Linked DNA regions of Homo sapiens: region 1 is linked to region 2. Evidence: fine-mapped expression QTL. A gene starts in region 2. The other region holds a variant in brackets. All regions are shown on one strand. Distances are between the middles of the regions.

What was found. PIP is the estimated chance that this variant, and not a neighbour inherited with it, causes the effect.
Region 1: its variant is fine-mapped to the expression of TSPAN15 in esophagus muscle (GTEx, PIP 0.92).

The regions. Positions count from the first base shown.
Region 1 is chr10:69,501,012-69,504,028 of GRCh38, reverse strand. All of the region lies in intron 5 of TSPAN15 (tetraspanin 15), which reads right to left. Among named protein-coding and RNA genes, the nearest start is that of TSPAN15, 51 kb to the right of the region's middle. The variant C/A (reference allele first, on the strand shown) is at 1,737.
Region 2 is chr10:69,450,388-69,452,887 of GRCh38, reverse strand. TSPAN15 (tetraspanin 15) reads right to left here and starts at 1,423. Exons shown (of 8, transcript NM_012339.5): 1 at 1,198-1,423. The coding sequence starts at 1,293. RefSeq lists enhancers at 403-903, 1,695-1,834, 1,784-2,401, 2,402-2,500 and a silencer at 1,265-1,574.

The DNA of each region.
Region 1 (3,017 bases), 51 kb before region 2:
GCACAGGGTCAGCTGTGGTTTACCTGAGGTCCAGGGCAGGGCCCCTGGCCATGCTTCCGTTCCATAGACCACTGCTCCACCAGCGGAGAGTGCTGCCAAAACTTCCTTCTTGGGAAGAGAGGTGCTCTCCAGAACTCCCGACTACTGATTAATTTAGGCATAGGGAAACCTGTGGTCACGCCCTAGACCTCATCAAACCCCTCCCCAGGCAGGCCCTAACTCACAGGCTGCCGCGGGCACTTCCCATCACCACCTGTGCCCCGCAGGGTCTCCTTCTCCAACCACCAGGGAAGAGAGTGAGACTTCCTGGTCCAGCCCATGACCGTCCCCCCCAGCCCCGCTGCTCTACATGTAAGTGAACGCTGCCGTGAGTGCTGCAGGCGCCAGTGATGACTCAGGAGGGCAACAGCAGAGCCCCCAGCGTGCCCTCTGGTGTCACATTTCCTGGGTCCAGATCTTGCTCTGCCACTTAGGAGCAGAGCCCAACCTTAGGTGGGCTGCTAAGGAACTGGCACGCAGAGGTACTCAATACATATTTGTTAACTGAGAAAATGAATGAATGAATAGGTTGTGATGATCACAGAACCCACCTCCTAGGGCTGTTTTGGACATAAAGTGAGATACACATATAAAGTGCTTATCACGGGGCTGGGCACATGGAGGAGCACAAGAATGCTGGCTGGCGTGATTTGTTCACAATTCCAGCCCCTGCAAAGGAAAGGGAGGGTGTCTTCTCTCCTTCCGAGAGAGGGTTGGGCCTCAGATGTCATCTAGGTCATTCTAAATGTCAGGGCTTGATGTGCAGGCAAGACGACCTCCCTCGGTTTAGCTGGTTCTCCAGGTAGCCTCAGTCCCAGCCATGCCCAGTGCCCACTGGGCATTAGTCAGCCAGTGTTTTTGGCCCTTCCAGGCCATAAACACAACCCCTATGGAGAGGGTCAGGCCTGGAGAGCAGGTGCACGGGCACATGATGGGAGTGAGTGCTTTCCATCTCATTGGTTCATTCATTTGTTCATTGAACAAATATTAACTGAGCACCTATTGCATGTCAATCCCAGTTCTAGTCACTTGAAATACAGAACAACAAGACAAAGTCCCTGCCTTCATGGAACTTACACTGTAGAAAGGGAGATAATGAACATAACAAATAGGTAAGCTGCATGGTACGTAGGGAGGTGACAAGAGTGACTTCACTGGGCCAGCTCTGGTGACCTCGGGGGATGAGTCTCTTAGCACACAGGCAACTGGCAGAGGCCTCTCTGGCATCAGAGCCCAGAACCCTTCTCCAGGCCCAGGGGGGACTCACCTCACCCTGCCAGGAGAGCCCCTCACCAAGGGGTGAGGGGATACGATGCATCCATAGTCTTTCCAAAAGTAAAGCCTGCCTGGGTTTACCTGCCTGACCATAGAATCGATATTCTGCAAGAGGCTCTGCTGAAGTTCACAGGCCCCAAGACCAGGGTCCAGTAGCCTCTTCCATCCTGCACGGGGCCACAGGACAGGAAGTCAGAAGGGGGACTCCTGGGCAGCCAGAAGATCACAGCAATGTTTGTGTGTGCATCCTCTCACCCTGAAAAGACTGAGCAGCTAATGGGGACAGGGAGAGGGGCCTTCGCGACAGGCCCCCAAGGGGTAGCCAACAACAAGGGAGGGGAGGTACGTGAAAATTGGTCCCAAGAGCTCAGCAGGCACAGCAGTCTGGAGCCATTTAATGTAGAAGCACGCTGCCCTCTGCA[C/A]CAACATCTCCGAGGGATATATCCTGGTATAACCAGATTTTACAGCCCTATGTGAACTTCTATGGCTCAAATCCTCTATTGGAAGCTCATATAAGACATTTCTTTTAAAGCTGAGTGTTAGGGAAAAGGTTACTTTCCCTGAAGAACTGGTATGTTCTGCTGGTATGTTCTGCTGAACAGTAACAATGTAACAGACCATGTCTCCCTTTTCCTTTTGGTTGCCAGGAAACTCTAAGCCAGTGGTCTCCAACCTTTCTGGCACCAGAGACTGGTTTCAAGGAAAATAATTTTTCCACAGGATGGGGTGCGGGGGGGTGGGGGGTGATGGTGTCGGGATGAAACCATTCCACCTCAGATCATCAGGCATTAGTTTGATTCTCATAAGGAGCATGCACCCTAGGTCCCTTGCATGCACAGTTTACAATAGGGTTCACACTCCTATGCGACTCTAATGCTGCTGCTGATGTGACAGGAGGTGTAGCTCAGGTGGCAATGCTCCCTCAACCTCTGCCCACCTCCTGTTGTGCGACCTGGTTCCTAACAAGCCACTGACCGGTACTGGTTCATGGCCTGGAGGTAGGGGAGCCCTGCTCCAAGCCACCAGACACGAGGCTCAGCTCCTTTTCAGTGAGTCCATGAGGTCCTGAGGCTTAGATAGCAGGATTTTATATTTTTCTCCATCATCTAGGCCTCCTATCTGAGAATACAATTCCCACAGTCCTGATTTTTAATGCTATTTTAGTTTTTTACACTACATATTTCCCGTGTACTCATTCAAATCCCAGGTTGAATAGTACAGTGTAAAATAAATAGATCTGGACACAAATCAACCAGTTCTATGGAGGAAGCGAACGCCCTGTTTCACATTTAGAGAAAATCATCCAGGTGTGGTGGCACAGGGAGACTCAATGGTCATGTGTAACACAGGGTCAGATAACCCCGGCCAGGGGAAGGCTCCTCCCTACCTCAGTGCTCTCATTCAGATGCTGTCTTTAGATTCTACCCTATCTGCAGATGATGTCCGTGTTTACACCCCTTGCCTAGTCGTTCCCAGAACTCCAGACTCCTATATCCAACCGCATCTTTGACACCCCTGATGGGATGCTGAACAGGCTCTCAAACCCCCCACGTCCACGGTGAGCTCCTGGTCACCCAGCCTGCCTCCTTGCAGTCCTCCCCTCTCAGGCAGTGGCAGCCCCGTCTTTCCTGTGGCTCAGACCAAAACCTGGGTATCCTCCTTGATTTCTCTCTTTCATTCATCGCCCACATCTGCTATGCGAG
Region 2 (2,500 bases):
AGAGACCCAGCAAGGGGCTAAGGAGGACACCAGGGGAGAGTGTGTGTATTTGGTGGGAATGGGGTGTCAGTGACCACCCTGGGTCCCTGGGCAAGTCTGCTCTTGTGGCATACTGCAGGCAGAGAGCGATTCTGGAGTGACAGGGGCGGAGCTGGCCTATAGGAAGATATCCTCATCTCTAGAATAGGGCCCAGCCTAATATGAAACGCCCTTACAGAAACCCAATCTCTTGGGGCAGCTTACACCACAGGTGTCCAAATTCCCTGCCCACGATAGTAATAATGTCTCACACTTCTTGAGCTCTTCACTAGGCACCATACCCGGCCTATTTCACGTAATCTCCGCGAGCATCCTACAAGTTGAATATAATTACTGTGTCCATTTACAGATGAGGAAACCATGGCCGAGAGGAATGAAGTAACTTCCCCAAGATCACTCAGCAAGTGCTCATTTCAGAAACGCACAAACTGAAATTGGAACGATACAGAGATTAGCAATGTTTTAAATAAAAAATAAAATATAAAATAAAAGACCACTCGGAGCGACGGAATTCAAAGCTTGGTTCATGTCTAAACACTACCATCCTGCCCCCTAACAAGGCAGAGGAGGAGGTAAAGCCCAGCGACAGCGGAAACTGAGCACCTAGGTGTGCAGGAGACGTCGTCTGGTGGACTTCTCCTCGCCACGCAGGAGGCACGTGCATCCACCAAAGAGGAAACCAAGACGGAGCGGGGAAGCGTCTCGCTCAGGGGCATCAGCAAGTAACTAGCAGGGACCAGACCCGGAATCCAGGTCTCCCAACCCCGACTGCAAATCCTAACTACTTAAGCTCCACAGGCCGATGCAGAGGCAGTCAGTCCTACCGGGTAGGCGTGGTGGGCGCGGCCAGCGCGTTCACCTCAGCCTAGCCAGCCGGCCAGCGGACGCACAGCGGGCAAACCGCCCAGCCGGTGCACACAGGTGAGCCAGGTGGCACTCGGTCGGTCGACAACCGGCTCTCACACTCCCGAAAGGGCGGCTGAAAATTCAGGCTGAGCTCTGGCCGCCCGAATGTGAGGTAGAAAGACAAGGAGTCCGCGCGCGCTCACCCGCGCACTCCCTGGAGCGGCTAAGTGTGGACCCAACCCCGGGCCAGTGAGGGGGCGGCCGGATTGTGGGTCCCCACCCCCATCCCCGGGCCCTACTGGGGTCACTCACCCAGAACACGGTGGAATAGATGATAAGTGAAAACTTGAGCCAGAGGTAGGAGAAGCGCGCGCAGTAGCGCACCTGCTCCGAGTCCCCGCGCGGCATCCTGGGCGCTCCCCGCGCGGGTTACGGGGGCTCCGGGGCTCTCCGGCTCGGTCCCTCAGCCAGCGCTCGTGGCCCCACCTGCGGCTGCCGGGCTACCAGCCCCGCCACCGGCGTTCTCTCCGGGACTGACACTGGAGCGCGGCAATCACAGCCCCAGCCGGGAAGCCTGCCAGCCCTGGCGGCCAATGGGAGGCCGCGGCTGCCTAGCGTCTGGGAGGGGGCGGGCCAGGGGCGGGGCTGCTGCCCTGGGCCCTAGAGGGGACCAAGAAGGGATGGGAGGGGGAGACGGTCTTGCAAATGAGCTCGCGTGCAACTCTGGAAACGCCTGTGCTAATGCAGGGGGCGTGGGAGAGGTGAACCAGAGGTGCTCTAAGGAGAGAGCGAGCGTGCCTAATCGGGGTACATAGAAATGCAAGCTTTCCTCTTGTCAAGAGGGAAAACTTTGGGAAAAGGGCAAGAATTAATCGCCCAGGTGTTGAAAGTGCAAATGAGTGTGCTAAACGTGAATGGAATAAGGAAGTGGAGTTGCTCGGCTCAGGAAGGCTCAGGGAGGCAGACCAGGGTGGGGCTAATAGGCCCCCATGGAGCTGGAGTCTGAAGTTTGCTCGTGAAACAGATCTGCTGAAGGCCTTCACCAAACGACCTCGGAAGTCCCCTTCTTTTGCCAGGTGATAACCCAGCCTTGGGAAGGGTTCCTCCCGGGAAACCCCATCTTCAAACTAGGTTGAAGGCCTGGCGCGGTGACTCACGCCTGTAATCCCAGCACTTTGGGAGGCTGAGGAGGGCGAATGGCTTGAGCCCCAGGAGTTCAAGACCAGCCTGGGCAACATGGCAAAACGCCGACTCTATAATTAAAAAAAATAAAAAGCCAGGCACGGTGGCGCGCCTGTTGTCCCAGCTACTTGGGAGACAGGCGGGAGAATCGCTTGAGTCAGGGAAGTCAAGGCTGCAGTGAGCCGTGATTGTGCCAGTGCACTCCAGCCTGGGAGACAGAGTGAGACCCTCTCTCCAAAACAAAAACAAAAACAAGGCCGGGCACGGTGGCTCACGCCTGTAATACCAACACTTTGGGAGGCCAAGGCGTGCGGATCACTTGAGGTCAGGAGTTCGAGACTAGCCTGGACAACGTGGTGAAACCCTGTCTCTACTAAGAAATACAAAAAAAATTAGCCGGGCAGGGTGGTGCATGCCTGTAGTCCCAGCTACT